2 separate regions of the Homo sapiens genome follow, and region 1 is linked to region 2. Evidence: fine-mapped expression QTL. Tissue or cell type: blood mononuclear cells. Region 2 holds a variant in brackets; the other region holds the start of a gene. All regions are shown on one strand. Distances are from middle to middle.

Region 1 (8,097 bases), 180 kb after region 2:
GTGGTGCTAATGTGCAACCAAGATGGAGAATCCCTGAGCTAGAGGAAATGAAGCCCGCGCTGAGGCTGGGCGTGGTGCCCTCTGAGTCTCAGGATGACCAGCAATCAGTTCATCTCTGCATCAGGGCCAGTGGTGGCCCCTCCGGCTGGAGGGAGTTGGTGGGAAACTGGAAGACAGGAAGATACAGCCCTTTAACCCTTTAATGCCTAACTTCTAGTTATTAAAAAATGTTCACAAATTCATAGAGATGGGAAGTAAAATGGCGGTTGCCGGGGCCTTGGGGAGGAGGGAAGGGGAATGGAGAGTTACTCTTTAATGAGTACAGAGTTTAAGTTTGGGAAGGTAAAAAAGTTCCAGAGATGGCTACAGGTGATGGTTATACAACAATGCAAATGCATTTAATGCCACTGAACTGTACATTTAGAAGTGGCTAAAATGGTAAATTGTAGGTTATACATATTTACCACAATATAATTGTTAGATGTTTAAAGTACACTAATTATAATGAAAAGTATAATTAAATACATCAACCCATCCTAATGTAAAATGTTAGCACTTAGTCAAATTTTGTTGTCTTTTTACAGGGGAAAAAAAAATGAAACTTTGCAGATAAAAAAAAAAAAATTCAGAGGGATTTATCCCAGGACTAAAAGAGTGATTCAACTTAAGAAAAACAATCAGTGTAAGGCACCACACTAACACAATGAAGGAAACAAAAAACAAGCCACAGGATTATCTCGAGTGATACAGAAAACAAGCATTTGACATAAAATTCAACACCCCTTTGTGATTAAAAAAAAATGATTAGAAAACTAGAAATAGAAGATGATTTCCTCAACACAAAGGACATTTATGAAAAGCCCACAGCTAACATCACGCTCACTGGTGAAAGGCTAAAATCAAGAAATCCCCCTAAGATCAAGAACAAGAGAAGGATGTCTGCTTTCACCACTGCCACTCAACATTATACTGAAAGTTCTAGCCAGAGCAATTAGGCAAGAAAAATAAATAAAAATCATTCAAATTGGAAAGAAAGACGTAAAACTATTTCTATTCACAGTTGACATGATCCTATGTATAGAAAATCCCAAAGAATCCAGAAACAAAAAAGCTACTAGAGCTAATAAATTCAGCAAAATTGCAAGGGACAAGATCAACACACAAAAATCAGCTGTGTTTCTACACACCAGTAATACACAAGCCAAAAAGGAAATTAAGAAACAATTCCATTTATGAAAGCTTTCAGAGCATCTGAGGATTGGATATCAGAACAGTCTTGCAGTCTTTTGAAGTGGAATCATCTTGTTAGTAACGGTCCTTGGCAGAGGCACATGCATCAGAGCCTTTAATTTTATATGCATATTAGTGCATCTCATATTAAAATTAAGTAGAGCAAATAGATTTGATGGGGTGGTAGTGTGAACTGCACAGGACATGTGTAAGAACCTGAACCACATCCACAGGCAGGTCAGAGTGGCCTGGGTCTCAGCCATCCTGCCTCGCTTCACGTCTCAAGAGTCACAGGATGCTGGGAAGCAAAATCGCAGGCCTCTCGGAGGAAATCAGGCCTGAGTCAGCCTTCCCAGGAGGTTAAGGGAACAGATGAGGCCCAGGAAACGGTTTACTGTGGAGGGTGTTTTTCGCTAGACTAGTTGGAGGGGTATTTTTAAGTTGAAGAAGGAACTAAAAGTGTTTTTAATTATTATTTTTTGTGTGTGACTAGGGGCCAGAAAGACGAAGTGTTTGCCAAGTATTGCCACATTTCTTAGCTCTCCATGTTCCAGAGACTCGAAAAGTTGATAGATGCTTCCATCACAGAGATAGCTGTCTTGACCCTAATATGTTTCTGTTCCTCTCTCTAGCTAAGAGGTAAGTAACATCTGCTGAGATGGAAACGCTAGGAAGATAAAAATTCCCAGTGATTTGCTGAAAGGGAATGAGCCCTAAACTGAAAGCCAGGAGCCCTGCATTCTAGGCGGGCTTCTGCAGTACCCCAGTTGTGTAGCTCTGAGCCCATCCCTTCCCTTCAGTGGGCCTTGATTCTTGCCTGTAAAGGGGAGAAGAGCAGGGGTTGGGAGGAGTGGAGATCCTTTTAACTTTGACATTCTGGTTTTTCTTAAAGGCCAAACCCTTCAAGAAGTCAAAAGAACTTTAAAAGAAGAGGGAAGTGACACTGATTGGAAATAGGAAGGCAAAAATAGAGACAAATTGTAAAAGATGGATAGGAGATTTTTCTATTCTAGGCCACTCCTTTCTACTGGGCCCAAACTGAGTTGATACCAGAGGTTCACAGGGACTCAGGAGGGGGCTAGATTAGGCAAGAAAGGAAAAACAGCACTCCTTTAAAAAAAAGATGGAGTTTCACTCTTGGCCCCCAGGCTGGAGTGCAATGGCATGATCTCGGCTTACTGCAACCTCTGCCTCCCGGGTTCAAGCAATTCTCCTGTCTCAGCCTCACGAGTAGCTGGGATTACAGGCACCTGCCACCACACCCGGCTAATTTTCATATTTCTAGTTGAGACAGGGTTTCACCACGTTGTCCAGGCTGGTCTCGAACTCCTGACCTCAGGTGATCCGCCCCTCTTACGGGCATGAGCCACCGCACCTGGCCAAAACAGCATTCTTGTTTTCAGTTTCCCCAGGCCAAGGTTTATCAAAGAAGCCAGATCCCAGAAAAAGCCCAAATATTCAAAGCTTGCCTACTTACCCATGGGCAAATCAACATTTTTATGAACTGCTTTTGAGGGAAAAAGAAGTAGAGGGGGTCTGGGGGAGCAAATTAACTCCCAAAGAATGAATAAATGGCACTTAAATGAGATAGGAGGCCTTTGAATGCTACTTAGTTTTTCTCCCCAATTCTATTAGTTTGGCAAGCATCTATAAAGTGCCTACTGTGTGCTGAGTGTTGTGGGTGGTCAGATAGGGTGTTTGGCTGGAAGGTACTCACAGGAAGATAGGCATGTGCACAAACACCCAAATATCTAAAATACAAAGCATGGCACACTGACAATCAACAAAAACAAAAAATGCAAAGCAGAATGTGAGACCTGCCCCAAGGGAAATCAGATAAACTGCTGAAGAAGTTCAGATCAGGGGCTGTTCTCTTTCACCCGGAAATGGTGTTCTCTTTCACCTGGTGTTCTCTTTCACCTGGAAAGTTCAGGAAATAGACCCTAGGGGCTGGAGCCCAAATCTGAAAAACCTTCTTTATTCTTCCAACCGTAGCGATTTTTTCCTGGCTCCACTTTACAGAAGTGAAAACCAGGACAGAGACATGAGGAATTATTTGCTCTCTGATCATCCAGGTGGTTAGCAACACAGCCAGATAGAGAACTACAAACTGATGATTGAAAACTTCCCCTAAAAACTGATGGTGAAAGCACATACTACTAGGAAGCTCATCTTAGAAGACAAAATCCATAGAGCTGTTCCCTCTGTCTCCCTTCTTAGGTCAATCCCAAAGACACACCAACAAAAAGTCAAAGCAGGATTTAAAAAAATGTCATAAGCAAGCTGGAATCATATATATCTCTGGCCTAAAGGAAGCCAAGGTCTCTGCAGTGTCAGATCGTCAGATCCTCCTCCTGGGGAGGCCATTCTTTTTGCGAAGTCTCCAGTCCCATTACAAGTGAGTTGCCGGGGACTTCATGTAGGGGGAACAAGAGCTAGCCCACAGATGAAAACCCAGGCAAGCCCTCTGCTTTTGCACAGTGAACGAACGTGCCCACAGGCTTCTCAGCATTGAATTTGAACGAGCCAATGGTATCCCAATCATTGAAACAGGAAGCCAGATAAACAGCATGTTATCAAGGGGGGATCCAGCTCTTCCCTTAAGCCGGCGCCAGCTGCGCCCTGTGACTATCCTAACAAAGTCCCATTGACTCACCAGCTGATTTTCCTGTGTTCGGCTCCAGGGGACAAGGAACCCTCTCTGCCGGGTGGACGTCACCCCTACACACCGCCCCCGCCACCCGCCACTCGCGTCCTCTCCAGTTCCTGCCTCCCCTCTGCCCGCTGCAAACTTAGCTGCTTCTTTATCCTATGACCAGTTTTTATCGGCTCTGGGGATTAGCAGGGACCAGAGCCCAAGCCTCGGGAGCGCTCAGGTGAGCTCCCCGTGATCACCCAATTTCTGCGTTCTCCTCTCTCCCCTCTCCTCCGGGACCACTTTCTCCGCTCCCAGACGCACTGGGCGGGCGCCAGAGAGGACGGCCTCCGGGAGATTGGCGGGAGGGCGCTTCCCGGCGCATCCCGGGGGTGCGGGGAACGTTTTCTGGAACGGCCCGCGAGGTCACCTGCCCCAGCTGTTCCTCTGGCTCCTGCTGGGATGGGAGGAGTTAACTCTTGCTTCAACGAAAGGCAGAGGTGCGGGTAGGGTGTGTGCTTGCCGTGTGGGTGCGAGTATAAGAACGCAGCACCTGGTGTCTCATGATAAGATCTCAACGCACTTTAAATTGTGGGTATTTCACAACAAGGAAACTGAGGCTCAGAGGGACTGAAGTTAGGCAGCCCCCCCGGAGAGTCAACTCTAGAATCAAACGCGCAGTCAGTCCCATAGGGGTCGAAAGGGCACACACCTTCCCGGGAAGCCGCGAGCATCTTGGTTGTTATTTATTCCAGCGCCTCTCCCGAGCCCAGCCCACAGCCTCCCTCGGGCACCAACCTCCCCTACCCCGAGACTTGGTCTCGGCCTCGCAGGACCTGCCAGCCAAGCCTCGCAAAACGGGAAGCGCCAGACCCTCAGCGCCGCGACCGCGCGACCGCCCCGCGCCGGCCACTCACCGGAGCGCCTGCCCGCCCGGGCTCCGGGTCCGCGCCGCAGCCGCGCAGAGTCGCGCATCCCCAAGGGCAGCGCGGGTGCGGGGTCCGCTTCTCGCGAGCACAAAGTTTCCCGGGGCTCCCCAGGCCGCCTCGGCCCCTCGCACCAGGCTTGGCGTCCGCCGCGCACTCCAGCCTCGGGCCCCGCACTAGGGCAGCCGCCGGCCCCGGCCCCACAATGAGGAGGGAGGCGGCATCCTGAACAAAGTGCCGTCCCCTCGGGAACGGCGGCCGGGGCGGAGCCTCGTGACCCGCTGCCCCAGGCACACGCCGGCTGCCTCCACGGCGGGCCCAGGAGGGGAGTGCCTGGCGGCCGGGGGGCGGGCAGGAGGAGAGAATCCGTCCGATCGCCCTGGCTTTCCTCCCCCTGCACTGTGCCAGTTTAACCCGCAGAGGGGCGGAGGCATGGGTCCCTTCCAGACTTTGTCATTGGAAAGCTATTCCCGTAACCCTTTGCTGCCTTCGCCTTCCCGTCCCGCCTCCCAGGCTGGCCGCAGAAAGGCGGCTGCTCGGTGGCGGACCCGCGAGCTGGCAGGGCAGGAAGCCTTTGCACAATTGAGCCTTTCCTTTGCCCGGGGACCCGCCACCGCCACTTCCAGGCCGGGTTTCCTCCCTCCCCCACATGTCGTCCGGGTACCGCTCGCTGGTTCAGCCGCAGTTCTTTAGGAGAAGGGGACAGATGGATGGGCCAGCCTCTCCACCCGACTTCTGACCCCGGGCACCCACCTCCTTTCTTTCTCCACCCCACTGAACTGTCATGCTGTCTGAGCTGTCTTAGAGGAGGGGGAGGCCCCGCAAGTGCCCCGCAAATAGTAGGTGCTCAGTAAAATAAGTGACTTCTCCCCACCTTCCAGACAGCCGATGCCCCTCCTCCTTCTTCCAGGGACTTGGGAGTGGGAGGAGGGGGAAGAAGAGGAGAGAGGAAATGACAGGACCTGAGGAGAGTGAATGGGAGGAAGGCCCTCAGCCAGAACCTACTGCAGAAGCAGTGCAAGCCCCCTGCCTCCTGGCTTGGGGACTTCCAGGGTCTGCAGGAAGAAGGCAGAAGGAAGCCAGATGACCTGAGCTTTGAAGCAGGCTTTGGAAAGGGAGTAGCTGTGGCCAAGGACCCAGCAGATTCCCCTGCTCCTGCCAACAAATAAGAGGACTGATCTATTCCCAGGGCCATGGGGTTGCAAGTTGGAGGACTGATGGATAGAAAGCAAAACTGCCTACTCCCTGGGAGGTCTCACAGCTCTTTGCCAGCAAAATCAGTGTGAGCAGAGTCAGGATGAGAGCCCTTGAGTCCTCCCTGAACGCCCCACACAGTCAGTAAGGCCACAGTGGCTTTGAATTTGGAGAGATGAGACACCAGACAATGGACAAGCAGTGACATTCAAGAAGTTCCCAACTGATCAGGGAAAAAGATTTGTTGTATGATTTTTGTCCATGAAGGGAGTGAACTGCCTTTTGGCGCGGGATAAGGGGGTGGACTGCAGAGTGACACCCTTACCCTCTGTATAAAGACTAGAAGTGTGGGCTCTTAAGGCAGACTGCATGAGTTCAAATCCTGGATCAATGATTTTTTAGCCATGGGAACTTACTGAACTCTTTAACCTCTAGCTACCTCAGTTTCTTTATCTGTAAAATGGGATAATAATGGTTCCTATCTCCTAAGAGTGTTGGGAGGATTAAATGCGATACTATAGGTGACACACTTAGAATAGTGCTTGGCACATAGTAAATGCTCAGTGAACATTAGCTGTTACTTTGATCTTGGAGTAACTAACTCTTGGAGATCTAACTCTTGGAGATCTAACTCTTGGAGATGTAACTCTGCGCCCAGTTTGGCATTCAATGATGTGCTAGCTAGAATCCTTTTGTGCTCTTCCCAGTCCTGCAAAGGGGAGCCTAGTCCTTTAAGAAGAAGCACTGTCCTTTCTTGAGAGCTCAAAAGGTGGGACCCCAGGGACCAAGGACCACACAGTAGGTATGCAAATGACTATCAGAAGGTGAAATGACTCCTTGACCCATTGTGAGGCTGGATGCATAGCCCCCATCCACATTGGTAATGCTGGGATGATGTCATTCCTTGGGTGCTACCCAGAATGGAAAAGAAAGCCAAAGCTATAATTTCGTAAGGGTTAGATCTCTTCTATCAGTACACAGGATCAATATTTCTCTCCCACTTATGAGTGGCTGCTCATACAAGTTCTCCCTCACCCTGCTCCTAATGTCCCAATCAATATGGGTGACGGGATCATTTGTACCCCAAGCCTCAGCATCACACAATATACCCAGGTAACAAGCCTGCATATGTACCCCCTGAATCTAAAATAAAAATTCAGAAAAATGTCCCACTCACAGATTTCCAACAGTGAACCTGTATGTGTAGGCAAACATAATAGCATATGGACAGGTTGAGGGAGGAAGGAGTAAAGGGGCCAGTCTGGTTGGGGTGACAGGCAGAGGATATGAAAGCTACTGAAAGAGAAAGTGGATAGGACAGAGCGGCAGGGAGGAGAAGCCAGAAGAGACTCTGGACAGAGCACTGTTTGGGTAAGAAACAGGGTCCCGCCCATCCCAGAAGTGGCCTCTGCCAAATGCCTACTTTGTGAGTAGTTTTTGTCTGAACACAGTGATGACTCAGTTGCTCTGAGTCTAGCAAATGGATTTTCCTTAAATATGAAAATCAATAAGAGGTAAAGGCAAGGACCTCGCTGTGGGGAGGGGAGGATGGAGAGAGTGGGAGAGGTGCTGGGGCGTGAAATGATTTGTGAGTGATGGAAGGAGGGAGATTCAGGTTCACTGCAGGAGACCCTTGGCATAGTCACCTGTACCCCCACTCCCCACCGAGAAGGTGGCCTCCAGGACCTGCTGGCCTCACTGAGGCTCCTTAAAACCCAACAGCCCCTCTGTTCCCCTCCTCCACAGCTTAGAGCCAATCCTGCTTTGGGACAAGATGGGTAGCGAAAGGATTAATGTCAACCTGACAAATAAGTTTTAAAAAATCAGCCCAGAAGCTTGCTGTCACTCCCATAGAGTATCAGATCCGGCCTCCGACGAGATGAGAGTTTTGGGAACCCCAGGAAGTATGGCAAGTGACATTTTCAGCCCCAGCCTGATTTCTTTGGGGGCTTTGCCTGTTTTCCTGCCGCCTTGAGGTCTGTGGACCAATGCTAATTTGTTTCTTGGGTTATCTGACATGGGACTTTGAGGATTTGAACACACTCACAGCTCCTGCGTTCCACGTGGCCCACAGGGAGACTGTCTTTATCCTTCGGACTGTCTTGTTTGGGG
Region 2 (8,102 bases):
TCTCTTCTTAGGTAGACAGATACGATGTTAATAACCTTTTTGGTTTTTTTTTTTTTTGCAAATGGGAAAGCAGATTTAGTTGTCCAGGGTCTACACAGAGTTCGCATAAGAGCTGGGAATAAAATGCTTTTCCAAGGCTCTTTGAGCCAGTTTATTGAGGGCAAAGAGCCAGGGAGGAGGGTGACAGAATGACAGCCACAGAGACCAATGAGAGGGAGGCGCCTTCATTGACCAATCAGCTCCTTGGATGTAGGCCCTGCCTACACCACACCCAAGTCTAGAATAAACCACATCGAATTTCAGAGGCAATCACAAAGTGTACACAGCACACTTTTGTGTACTTTCATAGCAGCACAGCAAACCAAAACCCGTTTTGGGTTCCACTCCACTTTTAAGGCGTCGCATCCCAGTGGTCTTTCCACCATCCTCCCCCGCCATCCAAGAAGCCCCTGCGCTTACCCGGTAGTGATGTCATCATCCTCCGTCATGGTCTTGCCCATGAGGTCACTGTCGCTCATGTAGCCGGACTTGAGGTCCACCTCATCCGAGTCCAGGGATTCGACCAGCTCCAGGCGGGAGATATGGCTGAGCTTGCTGGGGCTGCGCATGGGCATGGTGTGGGAGTAGTGGGCCCGTTCGCCGTGCATGTACCAGGCGGGCGTCCCCTCCGAGCGGCAGCTCCCACCCACAGAGGGCGCGTCACCAGCCTGCAGCCGCGGACTGGACTGGCCATAGCGCCATGACAGAGGGGACGAGCGGTTGGAGAGGCTGGACACGCTGCGTGGGTTGGCATCATCGCTGTCGTAGCAGGTCATCTCCAGGGAGCTGGGTGGAGAGCAGAAGGCACTACTTAGTCCTTGGCACAGCCGCCGTGTGCCCTGTCCCCTCACATGCACCCCAGCAATGCCTCCCCTCCACCCACAGGCCCTGTCACCTCCTCCCCACCTGCCCAAGCTCCACCTCCTCCATGAGGCCTCTGGTTGTGTGTTACCTTTGTGATACGTTATCTGTTTGACAAAGGAAATGATCTTAATTAAGTGGCTAGGGAAGAAATCCTGTATACTGTTAAGACCCTAGATTGTGTAATATGACCTAGGTTTGAATTCTTTTTTGGTATTGGTTAGTAAAGGAGCCCAAGGAAAGTAAATAACTAAAGCTTCAGTTTCCCCATCTGTACAATGGGGATAATGGCATAACATCTACCTTATAGAGTTGTAAGGATCACATATGTACAGACAGAACACAGTGCCTGGTATATGGAAGGGGTCAACAGACCTGGAGGCAAGTGGGAGAGACTGGTCACTTGAGCTTAGAAGGCCTTGGTCATTTTGTTAATGGTGTGTCCATCACCTCTCTTCTAGTAATTAGCTGAGGGCTAGCTGATTCCCAAACATCATATATAGGAAAGCTGAAGTAGAGTGCAGAGAGTATAGGAAAAGCTTTGGGAATCTGGGATGTATGGCAGGTCCCCAGTAAGACTGGTCCAAGCCACAGGCCTAGGGCAGCAGGGGAAATAAGCCTCCCCAGAGAATAGAAGCAGCCTTAACTGGACAAAGGAGAGGACACAGGGAACCAGACATGGGGGTGAAGCCAAATGTCCAGAGTCTCAAGCCTCAGGCCCTGCTAGACCAGGCCAAGGGAGCAATGCCCAGGTGAGTGCTGGATGGCCTGAGACTAGGGGAACCTGGGGGACTAGGGAAGGAGATAGGGCCAGGCGGGCTGCAGAGAGGAAATACAACTGGAATCTGGTTGAAGGGGTGGCTTGGACTTGGGTTCAGGCTGAGACCCATAATTCCATCTAGCCTAGCAGTGGGGCCAGCCCAAATCAGCCTCAGGCAGGGTCTCCATAACTTATCCTAATTAAGCCAGACAGGACTAAGTAAGCGAAACGGGGTTTGGTGGCCAAGAAAGCTGGGGCAACTGAGGCAATCTGTGGCTGGACATGAGTTACATGAGCCCAAGCAATCACTGCTCTGTGAACACATCCATTGCTTAGCCACTTTGGGGGCTGGAATGGGAGTGGGACATTGATTTTTCCATTCTGGTTTCTATCAAGTTCCTTGAAAAGAAGAAAAATTTCCAAAGTTGTCTCTATTGGACCTGAGAAAATACGGTCTTATTTTCTAACCAGCAGAACTTGAGGGATCCAAACGCTCTTGAAACTGAGTGTGCTGGGGTCCTGGCAGTAGTCCTGTGGGCAAGATGGGGGAGGCCCTGGCCAGTCAGGGCAATCAGTGGCAGCTGCTTCTGGCCCTCTGGAGGGCTTCCTGACCGTGTCCATGCCCAGCGGCTCCCCTCCTGGCCCTGCCAACTCTTTTTACTTATTTACTTATTTTTGAGACAGGGTCTCACTCTGTTGCCTAGGCTGGAGTGTAGTGGTGCAAACACGGCTCACTGCAGCCTTGACCTCCCGAGCTCAAGTGACCCTCCTGCCTCAGCCCCAAAGTAGCAGGGACGACAGGCACACATGAGCACATCTGGCTAATTTTTGTATTTTTTATAGAGATGGGGTTTTGCCATGTTGTCCAGGCTGGTCTTGAACTCCTGAACTCAAGCAATCCTCCCACCTCGGCCTCCCACAGTGCTGGGGTTACTGGCGTGAGCCACTGCACCCTGCTTCTGGCAGCCCTTTAGGAACCCCTTTGTGTTCTGCAGCTCTGCCTCATACAGTGTCTTGTTTCGGCTTCTAATTACTGTGGACCTAGACATCACATCTCCTTGGACAGAAACCGATGTGCCCCGAAGCCAGAGACTGTAGTGATGGTGCGACTTTGTCTGCCTTGCTCACTCACCACGGTATTTCAGCACTTTGCATGGCACCTGGCCTAGAGCTGGTGCTCTAGAATGAATCAAAGAGGAGCAAACCCACGATGGATGTGTGAGTAAAAAGCAAGGAAGTTCTCATCAGAAAACTCAGTCCAGCGCCCTGTGCAGTAAGTGCTTGATAAAAGCAAGCTGACCTTGACCATGGGATGAGACAGGGGAGGAAGAGGATGATGCTAACCATACTAAGAGGGTGGCGGGGATCTCCAGGGAAGCTGGTTTGGGTAGTTAGCCTACACCATGGTTATATACTAGTGTGGGAGTGAGGGCTGCACTCAGCATCTGGGTTCCTCAATTCTATTCCTGGCCTGCCCCTGTTTAGTTATTTGTACTAAAA[T/G]TGCCTCTTCCCCTATTCCACAGCTCTCTCTTTTTTTTTCAGTTCCCCCAAACACATCTCTAGACATCTCTAGACTTAAGCTTGGTGAGGGGGATTCTAGCTCAGATCCTCAGTTCTTGAATTCCAGCCCTGCACCCACCCTTCAGGCTTGCCTTTCTCTGGGGAGGACACAGTTTCATTTCCTCTCCAGCCACAGTCTGACCCAGACTCTCCTCGCTGGGGGAAATGAACCAGTAGAAATTGAGGAAGCAGCACAGGAGTAAAGGCTTCTGAAAAGGAATGGAATCCAGTTATCCTGGGAGTTCCTGGGTGAAAACAGCCTTGCAGGAAGCACACACTGGACCATAAGCTCCGAGGATGAAGCTTGTGTGTGTTCTGGGGAGCCAGTGCCCAGCGCTGTGCCTGGCACACAGCTGGCATGGGTTCTGAGCATGCAGAGTACAGAACCTACCCTCATCAGCCAGCGTGACTCTGGCAGGTGCCTCCCTGCCCCCAGCCTCATTCTCTAACCCAGGGAGTATGTATATATCCTGTCTACTTCCAGGGCTAAGGGAAGGGCTCATTGATAGAAAGCCCTTTAAAAAGTAAAAGAGCCGGCAGGGCGTGGTGGCTCACACCTGTAATCCCAGCACTTTGGGTGGCCGAAGTGGGTGGATTACCTGAGGTCAGGAGTTCTAGACCAGCCTGGCCAACATGGTGAAACCCCATCTCTACTAAAAATACAAAAATTAGCCGGTGTGGTGGCACGCACCTGTAGTCCCAGCTACTTCAGAGGCTGAGGCAGAAGAATCGCTTGACCTGGGAGACAGAGGTTGCAGTGAGCTGAGATCATGCCAAGGCACTCCAGCCTGGGAGACAGTGAGACTCTGTCTCAAAAAAAAAAAAAAAAGAGCCATAAAAAGTCAGGGAATCATTGTTTTGGCTACCAGTGTGGAACAGGAATAATATAAACCAAAGCCTATGAGAGGAAGTGGCTCTAGGTCCACAGTAAACAGAAAAACCAGCTCCGGGGCTCTTGGTTCCTTTCCTATAAAGGGAGGCAGAAGCCAGAGGCCCTAGACGCTCCCCCTAAACCAGTCAGCATTATGCAAAAGGCTTGATTGAAGCCTCCCCTTTCCCACTAGAAGCAGAAAACCAATAGCGCCTGCCTAGGGTCAAGCTGTCCGGCTTAACGGAGGGACTGGGGGCTGGCTGCTCTGAGTCAGTGGCACCAGGAGGCTGGAGCTGCTACTTCTCTCCTACTCCTGTGAGTGAGTCATTTGGGGTGTGGCCCTCTCAGCAACTAAGCACTTTCTGGTGTCTTTGGCATGAGGCTGGTGGGTGACTTGGTGCTGAGAGATGTTCCAACAATTTCCTTGGATGGGGGAAGGCAGATGTCCAAGATTTCATCCGCTGGGTCCTAAACTGATAAGCCAAGCTCTGCCAGATCCCTGCTTCACTTGGGCTCCTGCTGGGGGCTTGGGGCTATGAGGGATGGCAGTAAGGGACAGATGTAAGGGGGTCCTGGAGCCCCCACCATCCACCTTTTTCCAGGACTTCCTTGGTCACCTCCCTTTCAGTAGTCAGGGTTCTGCTGGCCTGAGCAGAGGTAATCCCCAGAGAGTTTTGATTTATCTTACCATTTAAAATACTCGAGATGTCTGGGAGTAAAGGGCTGAGTGTCCAAGATGCGGGCATGGGCTGGGGATAGGGGGAGGAGTAGTACAAGGAAGGAGAAGGAGAAGGGTCATCTAAGCAGGAAGAACTACAGCCAACGGCTGAAAGCTACTTAAGACTAAGTGCAGTTCCACATCAGAGTTGCTGCAATCCCACAATGCACCGGGGTGACTGAAAGGTAGTGAGTTGGCCGGGCGCGGTGGCTCACGCCTGTAATCCCAGCACTTTGGGAGGCCAAGGCGTGTGGATCACTTGAGGCCAGGAGTTTGAGACTGGCCTGGCCAACATGGTGAAACCCCATCTCTACTAAAAATACAAAAATTAGCTGGGCGTGATGGCACACAGCTGTAATCCCAGCTACTCGGGAGGCTGAGGCAGTGGGCGACAGAATGAGACTCGGTCTTTAAAAATAATAACAAAATATTTTTAAAAAGCCTATGTTAAAAATAAAAAAAGAAAGGTAATGAGTTCTTTGTCATTGGTGGTATGTAAATATGTCCATGGGTGTGGTCCCATCCTCAGAATCCCAAATGGCCACACCCTGGGCTAAAGAAAGTCCTTTTCCACTGCCCCTGTGTCCCAACTTTGCTCTTAATTTTCCAGCCCCAGGAGTTGGAGAGGAATCTACTTCCAGTCTAACTGGGGAGGCTTCCTAGCCCTCACACAGCCTTCCTGCCCCACACCCCCCATGATTTCCCAATCTGGCTGTCTGTTCTGCCTCCCGCTGTCCCCAGAGCTTAGCCCAGCCCTCTGCCCCACTTGGAGCTGACAGCATGAGCTCATCTGGGCAGTCCAAGGAGCCAGCAAGGGAAATTCTGAGTCACAGCAGAGCCTGTGGCCAGGACTTTGCTCCAGAGAGAGGTGCCGTGGGAAGGCTGAGTGCCCCATGCAGCTGGAGGCTATGAGGTCTCTGCAGGGAGTGGGCTAGGGGGACACACCTAACAGGGCATGGAGCTGGGTGACACTGTGTGGGCCCTGTTGAGCACTCAAGCCTCCCTCAGTGGCTCGTAGAAGAGGCCAGGGGGCACCTAACTGACACAAGAGTGAAAAGACCCAGGTGTTGAGAAGGGAATTGATTCTAGACCCCTAGTTTAATGGAGACTTAGGAACAGGAAGAGAGCATTTAGTAAACCTTCTCTTGACAGATTGAGGAGACAGAGGTCTAATGAAGGAGACTGACTATCAAAGATCACACATTGAGCTGTGTAATGGCTTCCACTTCCTGGCTCCTAAGCTAGTGATTTTCAAGCTGATTTGCTGAAATGAAATGAAATGTTCAGGCACAAGCAGACAGAAGACAAAGCCAAGCTTCTCTTGTTGAGATAAATGGATTTCCTCCTCCTTCTGCAGTGGCTCCACGCATCAGGCCACCTGGCTGACCTGGCAGAGGTGTGGAGGGACCCGGGGGCCCTGCCCTCCAGAATGGGGTGGAGAGCCAGGAAGGCAGAGGGCATGACCCTCTCTGCAGCTCGAGCTTACCTGTGAGTCACCTGGGACCCTCGCAGGCTGGACATGGTCTCTTCCAGGTTCTGCCGGAGATCCAGGACATTCTGCACTGTCCTCTTTCTCTGGGACTCTGGGTCTGGTAGGGAGAGAAGGAAGAGCTGGGTGAGTGAAGAGAACTTAATGCTGGGATCCTGGGGGTCAGGAAGTGGAGATTGACAGTGTCCCCAGGAGGCTAGTCCCTGGGCCATGATAGTCACCTTCCTCCTCCCTTTCCCAAAGACAACCAACAGAATGGGCCCTCTCAAAGGCCCTGGACATGTGCCATTGAGCCCTCTGAACCCCAGATCCTGGCAGGGGGTACAGGCATGGCTTTCTGTGTCTGTGCACTCCTTTCAGAGCCCCCAAGGAACTGCCTCTACCTCTGGCTTTGTTTTGGGGAGGCCCTGCTTCTCATAGCAGAGGTCCTGGGCAAGATTTCTCGTGGTTGAGATGAGCTGGAACATCTGCCTGAAACCCCCTATCCAGGGTTGTGCTGGTAAATGTTTAACAACTGGCTTTCGGAGGAAGGGGACACCGATGTGTGGTGTTTGCCAATTTCCCTGGTATAAAGCCTCCTATCATGGCCACTTTCAATCTACCAATCTGATGTCACTGACCACAGAGTTAGGAAGAGGGGCTAACAATTGGCTCTGGGGAACTGGTACAAGCTGGCTTCAGTACACCTAAACCCAGGCACTGACTGGTAATATCTGGGGTTGCTCTATGGGGTCCCAGGAAGTTAGTTCAGATATAGTCTCCTAAAGGTGAGGTGGCTGGTGGGAGGTGGAAGGGATGAGCAGTCATTTTCTGGAGCTTGAAGTGAGCTCTGGGCAGTCCCCACACAAGTGGTGCAATCCTGAGTGAGAAGGATGCATGGGTGTGGCCCAATCCTCAGAATCCCAAATCACCAAGAGCCATTGTATTCAACCCTGGTGTCCAGATATTAGCCTGGACGGATGAGAATCTACAACAGCAAACAGGGTGAAAATAACGTCCAAATGACTGAGAGGTGCTTGAGCATGAAGGAACTCAAAGAATGTTCTTCCTTCCTTCAGTTCATCCAATGAATCTTTATCAAGCACTTACTTCACATCAGGCACCACCCTGGGCCCTAAGGACAGTATAATGAAGAGAAGCTGGCCCTGCCCCATGGCTTATCTTTCATTTTGGAACCTAAAGTCATGAATGGAACCAAGTCCCCCAGTACCTCCCTAAAAGACAATCTGCAGGAGAGAGTCAGGGAGTGACAGAAAGATGATGGCAAAACAACAGAGAAAACCCAAGAACTCTGGCTCTCCAGGCTGCTCCCTTTTCCCCTCCATCCGCAAGCCTTCTGCCGCTGCTGCAGAGGCCAAACGCCCCCTCAGTCCCTCCTCAGCCCACAGACTCAGCAGGAGTGTAAGGTTTTTTTTAGCTGCCAAAGGGAACATTTCTGAATCTCTTCAAGAGGTTTTTATTCCCCCAAGACTAAGCTCAGGCCGGCTGGCAGGCAGCTGCTTGACTGTCTTGTCAGGGAGGGGAGGCTGGGTGGGGCGGGCAGGGAGCCTGCAATGCCCTCTCCAGAGCCTTTTGGGCACCTTTTCTGAGAACCAGCTCCACACCCAAGCCCAGCCATCCCTCCTTTCCCCTCCCAGGGGGAGCTTCTCCACCCCCACATCCTCTCATGGTCAGCACCATGAATCCAGGCCTCCATGCTGGTGGCAAGGATCAGGGACAAATGGCAGGCCACCATGCCAGTGGCCTAAGCTCTATCCCCAGTCCTGGCATCACTTCCGTGGCCGCCAATGCCTATTTATCCTGG

The links. PIP is the estimated chance that this variant, and not a neighbour inherited with it, causes the effect.
Region 1: it holds the start of NAV1, and the variant in region 2 is fine-mapped to the expression of NAV1 in blood mononuclear cells (TOPMed, PIP above 0.99). The same link has a PIP of 0.9 or more in monocytes.

The regions. Positions count from the first base shown.
Region 1 is chr1:201,536,028-201,544,124 of GRCh38, reverse strand. NAV1 (neuron navigator 1) reads right to left here and starts at 4,998. Exons shown (of 34, transcript NM_001389617.1): 1 at 4,783-4,998. It overlaps LOC124904484 (a long non-coding RNA gene), which reads left to right and starts at 3,980. Exons shown (of 2, transcript XR_007066793.1): 1 at 3,980-4,106.
Region 2 is chr1:201,711,113-201,719,214 of GRCh38, reverse strand. It overlaps NAV1 (neuron navigator 1), which reads right to left. Exons shown (of 34, transcript NM_001389617.1): 6 at 6,296-6,398; 7 at 460-825. All of the region lies in intron 2 of IPO9-AS1 (IPO9 antisense RNA 1), which reads left to right. Among named protein-coding and RNA genes, the nearest start is that of MIR5191, 4.3 kb to the left of the region's middle. RefSeq lists enhancers at 5,460-5,754, 5,598-6,286. The variant T/G (reference allele first, on the strand shown) is at 3,161.